4 separate regions of the Homo sapiens genome follow, and regions 2, 3 and 4 are each reported to be linked to region 1. Evidence: microRNA targets listed by miRTarBase, many of them from high-throughput screens and not tested one by one. Region 1 holds a microRNA gene; each other region holds the end of a gene's coding sequence.
Evidence for each region. The annotated mature microRNA hsa-miR-1976 reads CCUCCUGCCCUCCUUGCUGU and lies in region 1 at 2,048-2,067, shown strand. An mRNA with a match to its seed (bases 2 to 7 or 8) in the 3' UTR can be bound and repressed. Matches are read on the target gene's strand: a 7mer-m8 pairs with bases 2 to 8, a 7mer-A1 pairs with bases 2 to 7 and ends in A, and an 8mer does both.

Region 2: the mRNA of RASSF6 is a reported target of hsa-miR-1976. Seed matches in the 3' UTR shown: 8mer at 3,313-3,320.
Region 3: miRTarBase lists ACO1 as a target of hsa-miR-1976. Seed matches in the 3' UTR shown: 7mer-m8 at 1,999-2,005 and 8mer at 2,412-2,419.
Region 4: miRTarBase lists BAIAP2L1 as a target of hsa-miR-1976. Seed matches in the 3' UTR shown: 8mer at 1,795-1,802.

Annotation. Positions count from the first base shown.
Region 1 is chr1:26,552,527-26,557,042 of GRCh38, forward strand. MIR1976 (microRNA 1976) reads left to right here and starts at 2,016; the gene lies at 2,016-2,067. It overlaps RPS6KA1 (ribosomal protein S6 kinase A1), which reads left to right. Exons shown (of 22, transcript NM_002953.4): 7 at 865-971; 8 at 1,688-1,725; 9 at 2,070-2,212; 10 at 2,625-2,695; 11 at 3,011-3,099; 12 at 4,128-4,192; 13 at 4,472-4,516.
Region 2 is chr4:73,572,295-73,576,552 of GRCh38, reverse strand. It overlaps RASSF6 (Ras association domain family member 6), which reads left to right. Exons shown (of 11, transcript NM_177532.5): 10 at 46-143; 11 at 243-4,258. The coding sequence ends at 318. Among named protein-coding and RNA genes, the nearest start is that of RASSF6, 46 kb to the left of the region's middle.
Region 3 is chr9:32,449,557-32,453,814 of GRCh38, forward strand. It overlaps ACO1 (aconitase 1), which reads left to right. Exons shown (of 21, transcript NM_002197.3): 21 at 442-4,258. The coding sequence ends at 555. Among named protein-coding and RNA genes, the nearest start is that of ACO1, 67 kb to the left of the region's middle.
Region 4 is chr7:98,289,872-98,294,129 of GRCh38, reverse strand. It overlaps BAIAP2L1 (BAR/IMD domain containing adaptor protein 2 like 1), which reads left to right. Exons shown (of 14, transcript NM_018842.5): 13 at 19-56; 14 at 534-2,480. The coding sequence ends at 609. It overlaps BRI3 (brain protein I3), which reads right to left. Exons shown (of 3, transcript NM_015379.5): 3 at 2,585-3,019. The coding sequence ends at 2,887. Among named protein-coding and RNA genes, the nearest start is that of BRI3, 10 kb to the right of the region's middle.

The sequences.
Region 1 (4,516 bases):
CCCAGGCTGGAGTGCACTGGTGGGGTCTCAGCTCACTGCAACCTCCGCCTCCCGGGTTCAAGCAATTCTCCTGCCTCAGCCTCCCGAGTAGCTGGGATGACAGGTGCACGCCACCACGCCTGGTTAATTTTTGTATTTTTGGTAGAGACAGGGTTTCTCCATGTTGGCCAGGCTGGTCTCGAACTCCTGACCTCGGGTGATCCGCCTGCCTCAGCCTCCCAAACTGCTGGCTGGGATTATAGGTGTGAGCCACCGTGCCCGGCTTAAATTGTGATTTTAATGTTTGAATAGGTAATATACATGATTCAAAAGAAAAATATTCATGAAGAAGTCTTCCTCCCACCCCAGCCCCCTCTATTCCCATCTATAGGTAAACATTTTTATTGGTTTCTTGTTTAACTTTCCCATGTTTCTTTTGCAAACAAATCCGATATATGTTCATTCCTACCCCCATTTCCTTATGTAAAAAGTACTATTCTGTATACACTGTTCTGTACCTTGCTTTTTTCAAGATAGTATATCTTGGAGCTCACTCCATGTCAGAACACGGAGAAACTCCTTGTTCCAGTTCATGGCTGCAAAGCACTCCATTATGCAGGGGAGAGGGCTGATTCCAGCCTTCTACTCTTGGACCCTAGGCCTGTTTCCCACCCCTTCTATTTCTGAATGGTGCCACAATGAGTGGCTTGCGTATTAGTCATTTCATACTTCAAATCCTTTGTATGATGAGAAGGCTATATGGCCTGGGGTTTCCAAGGGTCCTCCCAGGGTGGCTCTTCAGGACCAGGAAGCTGCTGACTGCCCAGTGCCCCAGCTCTTAAGGAAGAGGAGGTCCCTGCTGAAGGCCCCTCCTGTCTTTTGCAGGTGATGTTCACGGAGGAGGATGTGAAGTTTTACCTGGCTGAGCTGGCTCTGGGCCTGGATCACCTGCACAGCCTGGGTATCATTTACAGAGACCTCAAGCCTGAGAAGTGAGTGAAGCCTCCAGCCCCACCCCAGCCTCCCCAGGGGAGGCCTCTTCTAGGACAGGGCCATCCTGAGGTGGGTGGGCATGGCTTTCTCCAGAAACGTCTCCCTCTCTTGGGCAATCTGAGGGATGGGTGAGTGGGGTGGGTGGTAGTGCCAGCTGCCCAGTCACTAATGCTACCATTACCAAGGGCCAGGTACTTTGCATGCAGGTAATGTTGCCCGTCTTTTTTTGCTAATCTAGTGTGACATTTGAGATGCCACCTTTAGAGGTCTTTCCTTGATAAAGCCCTATAGAATTTTCCCTAATATCTAACTACCCTCAAATGATAACTAAGGAGCCAGGGGCAGGTGGTGAGTTGGAATAAGATCTGGCTTTAGTGTTAGGCAGCCCTGTATTCAAATCCTGTCTCCACCTACTAGCTAGACTTACTAGCTCAATGACTGTAGAGCTACTTAACTGCCCTGAGCCTTAGTTTTCCCATTAGCAAAACGGGGCCCTAATAGTACTTGCCTCACACAGTTGCTTCAAGGATTAGCAAAAAAGATAGGCAACACCCCTGCGTGGTACTGCTACCACCCTGCAACACCCGCCCAGTCATCAGAGAGAATTGGGTGGAGCACCTCCTCTGGGCTGAACCCAACTCCCACAGCCCTGTGGTAACACCATCACCCACACGGCCACAGCTGAGGGGCCCTGACCACTATTTCTCTATTACAGCATCCTTCTGGATGAGGAGGGCCACATCAAACTCACTGGTGAGTGGAGGGCGCCTGCCCCCTCGGGACCCAGGGGAGGACAGGACAAGGTCATGATAGGTCTCGGCTGAGTGCTGGGGGCTCATTCTTCCCGAGAAGCCGTGCCAGTTACTTGGAAGTGGTCAAAAACTCAGGCCTCAGACTTGGAACACCCTCAGCTGGAATCCCAGCCCCTCATTGTGTAACGTTGAGCAAGTCACCTGACCTCTCTGGGCCTTAGCTTCCTCCTGAGTGTCATGGGGGTGATGCCTTCTGGCCTCTGGGCACGGGGGTTGGGTGTGCAAAGGGTGGCAGCAAGGAAGGCAGGGGTCCTAAGGTGTGTCCTCCTGCCCTCCTTGCTGTAGACTTTGGCCTGAGCAAAGAGGCCATTGACCACGAGAAGAAGGCCTATTCTTTCTGCGGGACAGTGGAGTACATGGCCCCTGAGGTCGTCAACCGCCAGGGCCACTCCCATAGTGCGGACTGGTGGTCCTATGGGGTGTTGATGGTGAGTGCCCAGACAGGGGTAAAGGATCCAGCCCAAGCCTCTGGCCTCAGTCTCCCTATCTGTACAGTGAGGGGGTTGATCATTTCTAGGGCTCTCCCCGTCTCCTCTCACAGCCAAGCTGGCCTCACCCTATATGCACCTGCAGTTTTCTTCCTTGGAAGGATCCCAGGCTTGACCCCACCTGGGACGCGCCTAACCCAGTGCTGGCCTTCTCCCCAGCCTCGCGCCCCCACCGCTGCTCCTGGTGGTCTGGTTGGCAGAGGCAAGAGGGACGGGCATAATTCTTGCTCCAGGCTGACTTGGATGTATCAGCAAGAATCCTGGGACTGGGGCAGAGGGGTCTGACTGGGAGGAGGCGGGAGGTGTGTCGGAGACAGGGATCAGAGCCTGAATAGATCCTTGTCCTCTGCAGTTTGAGATGCTGACGGGCTCCCTGCCCTTCCAGGGGAAGGACCGGAAGGAGACCATGACACTGATTCTGAAGTAAGCCCCAGCCCTGCCCTGATAACAATGGACTCCTCCAAGCCCCAGCCCCAGTTTGGGGGTCAGAATATTATTACCCTGTCCCTGCCTCAGCTACCCTCTCTAATGAGACTCTCCTCTGGGTTAAACATTATACCTTCCAGAGCCCCTCTTTCATCCCTGGGGGCCTGTGGGTAGGATCCCTGAAGCCTTTGGGAAGTGAATTAGTGGATGGCTTGTCTAGACTGAGCTGGGAACTAGATCTGGACAGGGGCCGGGGGAGATGGGGCCTCTGGGGCAGGGCTCAGCCTTGATGAGTCCCGGGGGCTGTTTCAGGGCGAAGCTAGGCATGCCCCAGTTTCTGAGCACTGAAGCCCAGAGCCTCTTGCGGGCCCTGTTCAAGCGGAATCCTGCCAACCGGCTCGGTAAGCAGCCCCAGCTCAGGGGAGGGGATGTGGCGATGGGGAGCCGGGTACAGCTGCAGCCTAGGCCACAGGGCCACATCTGGGCTGAAAGGGGCCGTTGTCCTTTGTGTGGGCAGACAATGCCGCGGGCCACCCTGCTTTCTGGCTCCATGTGTGGTGTTGTGGAGGGGGGAGTTGACCTGTGTGTAGGGGGAAGGCAGGAACTGAGTCATCCCTACTCCCTCTGGGGACAAGGACAGAGGCCCCCACACAGCTTCTCCGCCAAGGCTGCTGGCACAAGAGAAATAGCATGAGCTCAGGAGTCAGAAGGCATAGGTCCCAATCCCGGCTCTGTGTCAGGTCCCCACTGCCTGGCACAAAACAGTCCCTCTATAAATATTTGTTAAACGAATGAGGCCACTTATGAACTAAGTGACCCCAGGCAGGTGACTTCACCTCTCTGCACCGCAGGTTCCTCGTCTCAATGGGAGATGATGATCCCAAGCTTGCTTCAGGGCTCTGTTGATGAAATGAGGTTGTGTGAACATGCCGGCATGTAGTAGGTGTCCAGTGTGTGCTGGCTTCCCTGGCTCCTGGGTTCATCTGGTCCATGACCAGCTGTGTAAGGTCCAGTCAAGGCCCCTGGGGTCGAATGGAGTAACAGCCTGTCCTATGGTTGAAAAGGTCAATGGGATAAGAGGAACAGAGATGAGGCTTGCCTTGGAATGAGGTGGGGCTCTCTGTAGGTCTCAGAACAAGCTCAGCTTCTGTTCTAACTGTGTGGCCTTGGAGAAGTTGCCTAAAGTCTCTGGGCCTTCCTCCTCCCACTGGTACATTGGAATTTCTTCATCAGAAGCTCCAGAAAGTGGAAAATGCTGAGTAGGTGACAGGCCTTAGGGTGATGGCTGGGTAGATTTGAGGCTGAGTGAGCCCATTTTCCCCTCTGCTCCAGCAGCTGGTCCCAGAGCCCTGTGAGGCTGCTTGGTGGGCAGGGTAATATCTGGGACTTGTGCCAGCCAGGGACAGACCCTTCATTTGGGCTCTTTCAGGCTCCGGCCCTGATGGGGCAGAGGAAATCAAGCGGCATGTCTTCTACTCCACCATTGACTGGAATGTGAGTGTGTCCACCCACACCAGGGCTCTGGCCAGGGCTCAGCCATCTTGGCCACAGGAAGGGTGGTGGGAGGGGAGCCTCTGCCAGCGAGGGCCCCAGACGCAGGAGCAGAGGGTCACAGCCTGCCCTTGAAGACAAGGGCTGGCCTCCTGAGGGCAAGCAATTCCGAGAGCTGGGCAATATGGCCTATGTTCCAAGCCCAGCACCTCCTCCTGCATGGGGCTCCTGGTGGGCTGTTGAGGATGCCATGGTGACCAGAGTGCCCACCCCACTGTGCAGAAGCTATACCGTCGTGAGATCAAGCCACCCTTCAAGCCAGCAGTG
Region 2 (4,258 bases), not on the chromosome of region 1:
ATAATTGTTCTGCTTTCTTTTTTTTTTCTTCTTCTTCTTTCTTAGGTGGCTCAGTACATTAACTTTCACTTTTCTCTCTTGGAATCCATTCTTCAAAGATTAAATGAAGAAGAGAAAAGAGAGATTCAAAGAATAGTAACAAAGTAAGTCAAGAGCATGCACATTGGATACTCCGTTCTTTAATATGTCCAATGCACAAAATATGTCCAATTTTTAATAGTCTTTCTTCTTCTCATTTTCAGATTCAATAAAGAAAAGGCGATTATACTGAAATGTCTTCAAAATAAACTAGTAATAAAAACAGAGACAACAGTTTAGCAGTACAAGCTTCTATTGCTAAAACATTTCAAAAAACTCAGAGATATTACTCTTTGATGAATGCATAAGTTCTGTACTTGCATTTATACGAACATATATGAGACTTGAATCGTAGAAAATTGAATGTCAAAAAAAGCTCATTTCTTTTTGAAGTGATGAGGTTAATTAGGGTTCACAGTTGGACAAAATGAGTTTGAGTTTAGTTTCAGTAACTGAAATAAGCTTGAATACTGCATATGCCAAATAGCTTTTATAGTAAACCATGTAATGAACTCAAATTTAAATGGTGTCTTCAGATAAGCAGTTTAAACTTCATTTAGCTTGGACTCTCAAGAGAACTGAAACATAATCAATGGATTCAGAAATGACTCAGAAAAAAGAAGCTGCCAGTTCTTGGAATGAAAAAGAAATACAGTCTTACACCATCAAGGAATCTACCTGATAGTGACAGTAGCTTCTTGAAAACTCTGGCATTTTCATAAAATCTAGGACTATCTTAAATGGCCTGTTGACTTCTGACTATCTGTAACATCAGAGCTGTCTGGCCTTTGGAAAGGAAAAATTATGGACTCTGTTAAGAAATCCTAATTGAAATTTTCTGAACCTCCCCCCAGCCCTTTTATTCTCTCTCTTCTGCTGATGAAAGACCTTTCATCAGTTCAAAGCTTTTCTTAAGCTCTTTTTTAAGTTAATTGAACTTTTTCTTTATTTATTTTTCAAAAAAATGTTTATATCACATAGACATATTACATCGGCTAAAGTAAGACTTGGCCCACAAATACCTATTTGTTGCTGAATGAATACAATGGATAAAGCAAGGCTGTTGTAGCTGAAGTTACATAGGGAATCCCAAACTCTGCCCTCTTAGCATCTTATTCTACATGACAACTCTCAAGGTACTCACAGATCTGTTTAACCCACTTGAAAAAAAAACACTAAAAATGAAGAAATGCTATAAGTATAAACTATGATTTTATTTATAAATTCTGTATTAAAATGGAATTATATGCAACATTCTTTCATTCTGTAAACTAATTCCATTTGCATTCCTCATAAGCATTGTAGTAAATTGATCATATTACATGTACTAAGGAATGAGATTATATGCAGTAAACCCAACTGGAAGATTAACAATATTAAAATATGAAACATTTTTAAGACAAAGGCATTACTTCTCAGTATTACCAAACCTAAACTGGTTGAAGGTGAAAGTGTGCTATGGCCTTTTCAAGCCTAAGAAGTCTCTCTTACTGAGTAAACCAGAGGCTTGCATCGCTATTCTTTCACCTGTCAATATTAATAAGAAAATAGTCTCATCTCACTTAAATGAGGCAAATGTAATAGTTAAAATTCAACATACTTATAAAAAACTAGTGTCATGTACCTGCCATGAACATGACAAAAGGTTAGTCTTCAATAGACTGAAATGTATAAGAGAAGAACCAAGTCTTACATAGAAAAAAAAGGTAGATATGAAAAGAAAAATCACAGAAGAGAGAATGCAAATGGCCACTAAGTATATGAAAAAAGTCGTATCTTAACAGTGAACAACTGTGTTAGTCTGTATCAATCAGAAGACAGAAACAAGGTAGTAATTTAAACAGGGAAAGTTTAATATAAATAATAATTAAGCTATGATAGGAGAATAATAATAAAGATGAAAAGAGAAGGTACCCTAAGGCTGAGGGAAAGAATCCTAACAAGGAAAGGCAGGAATGAGGGTTTCAGAATTCACTGGAGAAGGTGTGGTTGCAGCCCACTGGAGAGAAGTTTGCTGGCTTGCCCAGGCCAGAGCAGGACCACAGATACTGGACAAGCTGGTACAGCCAACCCCCTAGGTGTGGACCAGCTGAGGCAGGTGGGCAGATATGCAGAGGGACTTGGGGCTTTGCCAAAGGGTAAGCACAAAGAAGGAGTCACGGGTTCTGTTCGAGGCACTGTTGGGATTAGGAGCCGGAGGGACCTACTTTGCAGGAACCTAGCATAACTTTGTGTGACGAGACTGCACAAGACAAAGCTCAGGCAAGTGGCTCAGTAGTTGGCCAGCCCAGCAGGGTCCTCTGTATGAGTGTGCACCCAGCTGAAGAGAAGAAATGGAGAGCAGCAATTGGAGCTTCAGGACCGGCTTGCACTGTGGCTCCAGGTTATACCACCACTGCCCAAAGCAAAAGCTAGAGAAGCAAGTGGAGAAATGCTGGAGAAAGCTGCACCCTACAGGCAACCAGCACTGCAGAAACCACTCCAGGCAAAGTAGTGAAGGAAAAAAGCCTGCTCTCCAGTAGCCTGGCCTGTCAGCCTGGAGGAATCAGGAAAGACCCCTTCCTCTTGCAGTGTGTCTCCAGCGCCCTCTACTGACAAAGTATGCCATCATGCAAGCTGCAAAGGAAACATTTCAAGAGTCTATATCTATTTTCACGGAGCGGGCAACCAACAGTGAATGTGGAGCTGAGAGACAGTAAAATAATAACTGACATGCCACCGAAGTACAAAGTAAAATAAATAAATAAATACACATTTTGGCCTATTAGCAAAGATTAAGAAATGATAACATTAAATACTCAATAAATCACCATGAGATGGGGACTCAAACTTCTGGTAAAAATACAAATAGATATAATTTTTCTTGAAGGCAATTTAGTAGTCTGTTTATCCTATAATTCTACTTGTAAGATCCTATCATATGAAAATAACCAGAGATACAAAGACATTCTGCAAAGATATGTTTTATATTGTTATTTATTGTGACAAAAGGAAATAAAAAGCCTAAATGTTCAGAAAATTATTTTAAAAGATGAAAGAGGGAAATAGGCCATGGACGGTGGCTCACGCCTGTAATCCCAGCACTTTAGGAGGCCAAGGTAGGTGGATCACTTGAGGTTGGGATTTCGAGACCAGCCTGGCCAACATGGTGAAACCCTGCCTCTACTAAAAATACAAAAAATGAGCCGGGTGCAATGGCAGGCACCTATAATGCCAGCTACTCGGGAGGCTGAGGCAGGAGAATCGCTTGAACCCGGGAGGCGGAGGTTGCATGAGCCGAGATGGCGCCACTGCTCTCCAGCCTGGACGACAGAGCAAGACTCCGTCTCTAAAAAAAAAAAAAGAGGGAAATAAACATTTATTTGTATATTGTTATGTAGCCATTAAAATTCTGTTTCCAAGTAATTTTAATTACAGGGGTAAATTCTTATATATCTAAATAAGAATATACACATACACATGTTCCAAAATATTTATTATGTACTTAAGGCATATATATTATATATGTATGTGTGTGTATATATATATGTATTTGTGTGTGTGAACACTAATATTTGCATATATATACACACAAGAAATAAAAACATGTTAAAAATGGCTATATCTGCATTGTAGAATTATGAGTGATTCATGTTTTTCTAACTTCCCTATCTGTATTAAGTGTTCTATAGTTTATATTTGTTACTTTTTACATCAGGAAATAGTAAAGTTATTATTTAAAACTTATGAACAAAAAAGTAACAAGCACATGCAAGCACAGAGTTCTACCAAATGCAAAAAATTTCAAATCAATTATTCAAATGAGACATTAACATCACTTCTGTGGTAGTTTTATATCCATAAAGTCTGATTCTTCTCCTTTGAAGAGATGAAGCTTAATCTTCCTCATCCTGAAAATGGGCTGGACTTAGTGACTTACGTCTTTTTATTTTATTTTTAATTGACAAATAATAATTGTATGTATTTATGGGGTACAATATTATATTATTATATATGTATACATTATGGAATTATTAAATCAAGCTAATTAACATATCCATAACCTCTTATAATTTCTTTGTGGTGAGAACATTTAAAAATGTACTCTTTTAGCAATTAGGGACTTACTTTTAATACAGGAAAATGGAAGAGACTGTGAGACTTTGAAGTAGGTCATAAAAGTCACTGTGGCTTCCTCCTT
Region 3 (4,258 bases), not on the chromosome of region 1:
ACAGAGGCAGTGCAAAAGTCTGTGTCTCAGATAAGCAGATGGGCCAGCTGCCTAAGGGACAACCTTAATGAAATCTCTGCTGATTGAATACTTCTGTCCACAGGGAGCCCCCAGAGGTTTAGAAAATACCACCCTGATGTCATTAATAGCTACTGCCCTGAGAAGCTATTTCTAGTTCTTAGATGGCTCTCACCCCCATCATTTACAGTCTGCAGTGATTCTCAAACTGTAATGGGCAAAGCAGCCTCCCAGAGATCTTGCTGAAATGCATCTTCTGATTTAGTGGGTCTGGGCTGGGGCCAGCAGCCTTGCATGTCCTCATGTGCTGCTGGTGTTACTGAAGTGTGGACCACACCTGAGGGGCAGGCTGGGCAGAATTTCCTCCGAGCAGAGCTGTCTCGCCACCTCCCTCAATGATGCTTCTGTTTCTTTGTGCCACAGCTGGATACTGGCAAGACCTTCCAGGCTGTCATGAGGTTTGACACTGATGTGGAGCTCACTTATTTCCTCAACGGGGGCATCCTCAACTACATGATCCGCAAGATGGCCAAGTAGGAGACGTGCACTTGGTGCTGCGCCCAGGGAGGAAGCCGCACCACCAGCCAGCGCAGGCCCTGGTGGAGAGGCCTCCCTGGCTGCCTCTGGGAGGGGTGCTGCCTTGTAGATGGAGCAAGTGAGCACTGAGGGTCTGGTGCCAATCCTGTAGGCACAAAACCAGAAGTTTCTACATTCTCTATTTTTGTTAATCATCTTCTCTTTTTCCAGAATTTGGAAGCTAGAATGGTGGGAATGTCAGTAGTGCCAGAAAGAGAGAACCAAGCTTGTCTTTAAAGTTACTGATCACAGGACGTTGCTTTTTCACTGTTTCCTATTAATCTTCAGCTGAACACAAGCAAACCTTCTCAGGAGGTGTCTCCTACCCTCTTATTGTTCCTCTTACGCTCTGCTCAATGAAACCTTCCTCTTGAGGGTCATTTTCCTTTCTGTATTAATTATACCAGTGTTAAGTGACATAGATAAGAACTTTGCACACTTCAAATCAGAGCAGTGATTCTCTCTTCTCTCCCCTTTTCCTTCAGAGTGAATCATCCAGACTCCTCATGGATAGGTCGGGTGTTAAAGTTGTTTTGATTATGTACCTTTTGATAGATCCACATAAAAAGAAATGTGAAGTTTTCTTTTACTATCTTTTCATTTATCAAGCAGAGACCTTTGTTGGGAGGCGGTTTGGGAGAACACATTTCTAATTTGAATGAAATGAAATCTATTTTCAGTGAAAACTTGTTGACTTTGAGTTTTGCTGTGTTTGTGGCTAGAGTTTTGGGATATTTAGTACAGAGTGAATCTCACACCATATCATTGGGAAGCCTGAATAACCTTCATATTCTCCCATTTTTACAACTCTATCAGAACTGTACGGGTATAACGGAAATGTTTAGGAACCATTATGCTCGCTCTTCCCTGTTTGGGAGCAGACAAGAAGGAAGAGTAGCCTGGTGGCAGTGGCAACGATATAAGTACATAAGGAAAAGCAGATAAACTTCAGGACACTAAAAACCAATTATCTGCTCATTTTTACCCCTGTAGTCATTTCTGGGCATGCCTTAGTTTGCTTGGGTTGCTATAATGTAATGCCATAGACTGGCTGAAAGAACAGAAATGTATTTTCTCACAGTTATGGAGGCTGGAATTCTGAGATCAAAGTTGAAGCCACTTCATTTTCTGGTGAGGACACTCTTCCTGGTTTACAGATGGCCACCTTCTTGCTTGTTCTCACATGGCATTTCTTTGGTATGTGCCTGGTGGGGGAGAGAGAAAATAGGCTCTCATGTCTCTTCTTACAGCAACACTAATTGTATTGGATCAGGGTCCCACTCTTATGGAGACCCAGGAAAGCTGGTGGTATAACAACTTGGTTCAAGTCCAAATGCCTAAGAACCTGGGGAGGGGCATGGGGAATGCTGGTATAAGTCCCAGAGTCTGAATGCCCAGGAACAAGCAGGAGCTGTGATGTCCAAGGACAGGAGGGCAGGATCTTTGTAATGAATTTTTAATGTCAACCTTAGCACTCAGGGGATATGGCCTGGTCATCAGAACATCTGGAATCTAATCCTCTTTCTACTTCTCACCAGATGAGGGATCAAGACAGGTTATTTAGCATCCCTGCACTTGCGGTCCTGGGGATCTTATTTATATTCATTTAAAAAATAAATTACAAACAAACAGCCAGGCGCAGTGGCTCATGCCTATAATTCCATCACTTTGGGAGGCCGAGGTGGGTAGATCACCTGAGGTCAGGAGTTCTAGACCAGCCTGGCCAACATGGTGAAACCCCGTCTCTACTAAAAATACAAAAAATTAGCCAGGTGTGGTATTGTGTGCCTGTAATCCCAGCTACACAGGAGGCTGAGGCAGGAGAATTGCTTAAACCCGGGATGCAGAGGCTGCAGTGAGCCGAGATCGTGCCATTGCACGCCCGCCTGGGCTACAAGAGCAAAGCTCCGTCTCAAAAAAAAAAAAAAATTACAAACAAACAGAACTCCATTGTACAAAAAAACCTGTGATCCTCAAGTTAAGATCAGTCCTAGAATAAAAACACTAAGAATGGCTGAGAAAACAGACCTCCACCCTCTCAGCTCTCCATTACTGAGCAGCTGGGGAGCTGTCTCGCTCCCCGCATTCAGTGGCTCCTGTGGTCTGTATTTTTGTATCCTCCCCAAAATTCAGGTGGTGAAACCTTAACCCCCCAGGTAATGGTAATAGAAGCTGGGGCCTTTGGAAGGTGATTAGATCATGAGGGTAGTGCCTTTTAAAAGAGACTCAAGATAAGATAGAGACCCCCTCATTTCTTCTGCCATGGGAGAACACAGCAAGAAGTCACCATCCGTGAACCAGAAAGTGGGTTCTCACCAGATACTGAATCTGCCAGTGCCTTGAACCTAGACTTTCCAGCCAGAACTGTGAGAAATTTCTATTGTTTATAAGCCACCCAGTTGATATTTAGTTACAGCAGCCCAACCAAGACTGTGGTTATGAGGAAACAAACACATTATTGTGGCTAGACTAATGGAATTGGGTCCCTTACCTCCAAGTACACCCTCTGTCCTTTTCGGTAAAAATATCTTCGCCAGGCACGGTGTCTCATGCCTATGATCCCAACACTTTGGGAGGCCGAGGCTGGAGGGTTGCTTGAGCCCAGAAGTTTGAGACCAGCCTGGGCAACACTCTACAAAAAAAAAAATAAATAAATAAATAAATAAAATAAATCAGCCAGGTGTGCACCTGTGGTCCCAGCTGTTCAGGAGGCTGAGGTGGGAGGATCACTTGAGCCTGGGAGGTCGTGGCTATGATTGCTCCACTGCACTCCAGCCTGGGCAATAGAGTGAGACCCTATCAATCAATCACCACCCCCCCCCCCCCCAAAAAAAAAAGTATCTTGGCCAGTGTCTCAACCTTGCCCACTAACAAGCCTAAATAAACCAACTTCTTTTACCTGGTTCTTTAAGGGCTGCTCGTCTTACTATCCAAATTAAAAATCTGCTGTTCTCCCTCCCATATTCTTTGCGAATGAAGATTCCCCTGTTTGTTTGGATAGTTTTCCAAATTCATTACTGCATTCCTGGCATCCGCAGCAAGCTAAGAGTTAGTTAATATTTTTAATATAGCAAATAAGGATGAGGGATGCCCTTCATGTGTATTTACACACCAGATTTTTATGGTACATAGGGAGTAATCTAGGGAAAAGATATATTAGGCATGAATCTTAGCTGTGGTAGAAGCACAGCTCAAATTAGCTTAAGGAAAAAAAAAAAAAAGCTGGCTCATAGAACTTGAGGACAGTGGTGGCCATGACTATGGGCTTGATTGGATCTAGTGACTCAAGCTCCCTTCCATTTGCCCCTCCAACCACCCCCCCATCCCTCCACCAATCATACCTTCTGTTGGCCTCTGCAGTAGAGTGGCCTCTTCTGGGCCCTTCCACATGCCAGGGGATATGGCCACCAGCAGTTCTGGGGAAACCATTAGTAATTTGTGATCGTAGAGATTTGTCTCCCAGTATTCCCTAGGGCAAAAATATTGGGAGTTCCTAGTCACCTAAATGAAGAACCTTATTTTTAGCAGTTTCCCTTTCAGGGCTCTAACAGGACTGTGGAGTAATGTACGGGGTTATGTAGGAGCAATGCAGAGCCACTTTTGAAAAACAGTAGCCAAGGTTCTACTGGCTGCCTTCTTAGGACATTATTAAATATCATAAACA
Region 4 (4,258 bases), not on the chromosome of region 1:
TCTTTATCTTTCTCACAGAACGATGCCAACGGGACTGCAAAGCCGCCTTTTCTCAGGTAGGCGTGGCTTCCTACGTGAGCCTCAGTGTGTGACATTGCTCTTCCCTGTAGTGTCCCCCGGAAGGGCCTTCGGTGCCCAGCCCAGGGGGTCCAGCCTGAGAAAGGCCTCGGCCTGTGGAGCCATGGGGGAGTGCAGCCCCCTGCTCGCTTTACCAACTACTTTAGACCACGCTGGGAGCAGGGCTTCCCCACCCCAGAGTGACCCCCATGTCACACACAATGCAGGACTAAAGAGGTGTGGGTGCCCACGTCCAGAACGCTTAAAACCTGGGATCGTTCTGCAGCAGGTGGTATGGTGTAGGAATCATCACTGAACAAAACTTTCACACTCAGAAAACGCTGCTGGGACCTGTACAAGCTGGGGAGGTGGTCAGCCGCCCAGTCTCACAGGGCAAGAACGGGTTATTAGCACTGTTAAAATCCAGTTTCCCTCGTAGAGCAGAAGTTCTGAAAGATTTTTCTTATCCCCTGCAGCGGAGAAAACCCCTTTGCCACTGTGAAACTCCGCCCGACTGTGACGAATGATCGCTCGGCACCCATCATTCGATGAGAGGACAGCCAAGGACTCTCCCGGGCCTCTCCGGTTCTCCCTTGCGGAATGATGGGCGCATCCTGTCTGCCACGTGCTGACGGTCGGGAAGCTTCAGTGGAGAGGCCTAACTCTAATGTCGCCTGCTTAAGCAAATCATGCTTCTCTGTTTCACGTAGTTGGGTTGACAAGTTTCTGCCTTTAAGATAAATGAGTAATAGTCTAATGACCAGCTCAGCCATTTAAAATATTTTCTTCCTATTCTGTTCAAGAAACAGTAAACTTGGTTTCAATCTTTACTGTATTTTTTAAATGAATTTTTTCCTTAATAACAGCCAGAATAAGGGATAGTCTATGCTTTCAGGACTGGCTTTCTGCACCTGATATGAATGAGACCAGTTTTATTTTATAAAGCATGTGCTCTTAATAGCATTATGTCTAAAGAAGATATCACGTAAGTTTGCATCTTAGCATGCAAATCATAATTTTAAGCAATATAAATTATGAAAATACTATATAAATGTAATTTAACTTAAAATGTTTAAGTGTAGAGCTTCCAGAGATGGAGAAACCCCCACCCTCCCTCCAACCACGCCAGAGCTGTAGAGTGCTAAGACGCTTTGCCTGCCCTTATCACAGCCACACGTAGCACTCGACGAAATCTCCTCCGAGAGCTCCTTTTCTTGGTAGTTAGGAGTCGCCAACGGATTCGCTGCACACGGCCCATCCAGGACACAGGCCTGGGCGTCGGAGTCACGGCTCCTTGTGTTCTCACTCAGCTAGTTGGCCAAAGCTGCATCCATTACCAGTACACTCAAACTGCTCGGGGTCCTGGTTTCTCCGTGTTTGAATCAGGTACAGACTCTCAAAGGATACGTGTAAAGCCAGGATGACCTCTGGTGCCTGGAGAAGGGCGGGTTTTTCAGCCTAGCAGCCATGATGCCCTCGGAACCTGGCCCTATGGTATGGATGTGAGGACTACGCACTGGCTGCCCTGAGCCCGGGGCTGGAAATCATCTTTGGCTGCCAAGGATCTGGACCTATTTTGGAGTGGAGAGTCATGGTTAAAATTCCCAGCCCGGCCCAGGTACGGGAATCCCAGCATTTTGTGAGGCCGAGGCAGGGGGATCACCTGAGGTCAGGAGTCTCTACTAAAAATACAAAAATTAGACAGGTGTGGTGGTGGGCGCCACTCAGGAGGCTGAGGCAGGAGAATCACTTGAACCCGGGAGGCAGAGGTTGCAGTGAGCCAGATCATGCTGCTGCACTCCAGCCCGGCCGCTCACCGTGTGTGTTGCTGGGTGCTGGGGCTGTGACTTATCCCCTCTCCTTTAGCCTTGCCATAAGTGTAGTATCCTATGAGGCTGAGATTGGGAAAGGTTACATGCAGGTAAGCCAGTGGACGTGGCCGATGCTTCAGGCTCCTTCCAGCCAGGTCCAGCAGTGTTACCATCTGCTTCTCCTGGGAGGACAAACCAGGCACCCCCACCATGAAGGGGCTGCAGGCACCATGAACTATGTTAACAACCCCAGTCTGTACTACAGAAAGGGCTGCAGCCACATGAGAATTCAGTCCACACAAGCCCCATGGCCGTGTTCCCCACTTCAGCCACAGGGCTCAGGGAGCCCCATCTGGCGCTAAGGGGAACTGCTGGGGTGTGGGTGACACCTGGCCTTTGGCGTTCTGCCTTGGGGAGGTTTCTGGTTTTGTTACGGGGTGGAAGAATAGGACCTGGGGGTCTCGGATGCAACCTGCAGACCCCGTGGCTCACCCAACCCCAGGTTCTGCCTCCCAGACCAGAACGGGCATGGCCTGGTCCTTGGCACCGAGGTGCCTGCTCTGTAAATATCAAGGGATTACAACTTTAATAATAAAGCAGAACTTGAAAACATTTTCTTGAGCTGTAAGCGCCTGCTGAATACAACTGTGGTCAGGACTGGCCGGGGGAGCGATGGGGGTGTCGTTCCAGTCTTTCCTGGGTCTCTGAAAGCACCGAGTAAGCAGCACCAGGTCAACAATGGTATGAATCTCATTTATTGAAAACATTATTTCTCACCTTTCTCAAATTGAAGACTGCAAAAAATAAAAGCAGTGCTTTATTGAGTTGTCATGAGCCTCGGGCGGGAGCAGCAGCACTGCCTCTCCACGCTCCGGGAAACCGCAGCTGGCGTGTGCCACATCGGTCCCACCTCGCTTTACAAAACAGTCCTGAAGCTTAATCAAATAAAATTATTGTACACAACATTTACATTAGAAAAAGAGAGCTGGGTGTAGGAAAGCCGGGCCTGGTGTTCCCTTTAAGCGAAGGTGGCTCCACAGTTGGGGCATCGTCGCTTCCTCAAGGCAAAACAGCAAATGAACCCAAAGGGGAAGAGGATGATGGCCAGGAAGATGCCCAGGAAGGTGAAGCAGTCCTCCAGCACCCCAACCCTGCAGCAGAGACGGGCAGAGAGGGTGGCACCGTAAGGACCCGGGCAGCCAGAACCCTCACCCCTGCCACCCTTGCATTCAATAACCAACCAGTGGCCATGAGTCACATGGGGACCTCTGGCGAGTGACAGAAAACAGCCCCCCACCCCACCACCCAGCTACAGCCCACTGGCCTGGAGAGCCCCAAGAACCAGCTGCACGTACCCGTTCATGGAATGGCCATAGTTATTTAATCACTACATGTAACATTCAAAGAAAACGGGAAGAATAAAACAGTTGAAAGGACTCATCAGTTAACCTTGAAAGGCAAGGCAGGGTGTGTGGTGGCTCACGCCTGTAATCCCAGCACTGTGGGAGGCGGAGGCGGGTGGATCACCTGAGTTCAGGAGTTCAAGACCAGCCTGGCCAACACGGTGAAACCCTGTCTCTACTAACAATACAAAAATCTGCCAGGCGTGGTGGCACATGCCTGTAGTCCCGGCTACTTGGGAGGCTGAGGCAGGAGAATCGCTTGAATCCAGGAGGCAGAGGTTGCAGTGAGCCGAGATTAAGCCACTACACTCCAGGCTGGGCGACAGAGCGAGACTCCATCTCAAAAAGTAAAACCTTGAGAGATGGCCGGGCGCGGTGGCTCACGCCTGTAATCCCAGCACTTTGGGAGGCCGAGGCGGGTGGATCATGAGGTCAGGAGATCGAGACCATCCTGGCTAACAAGGTGAAACCCCGTCTCTACTAAAAATACAAAAAATTAGCCGGGCGCGGTGGCGGGCGCCTGTAGTCCCAGCTACTCAGGAGGCTGAGGCAGGAGAATGGCGTGAACCCAGGAAGCGGAGCTTGCAGTGAGCCGAGATTGTGCCACTGCAGTCCACAGTCCGGCCTGGGCGACAGAGCGAGACTCCGTCTCAAAAAAAAAAAAAAAAAAAAAAAAACAACCTTGAGAGGCATGATCATTTTGGTGCCACAAGCCACATACATCTGCTCTTAGAAAAGGAGCAACTAGCAGCTTAGTGATCCAGTCAGGTTTGGGCTTTTATTCGATTTCCGTTCCTTTGGTAGCGGGGGTGGGTTAATGGGAGACTACAGTCGGCCATGTTCACACAATGTCTGAAGGCCACTTATTTTGAGAAATGTGATCTCAAAGCCGCCTCTTCAACAAAGTTCAATGTTTGTAACAGACTAAAGACACCTGCAGGCCATCCCTCAAATCCTGCGCCAGTGAGCCTAGGTTCAGTGACCTGA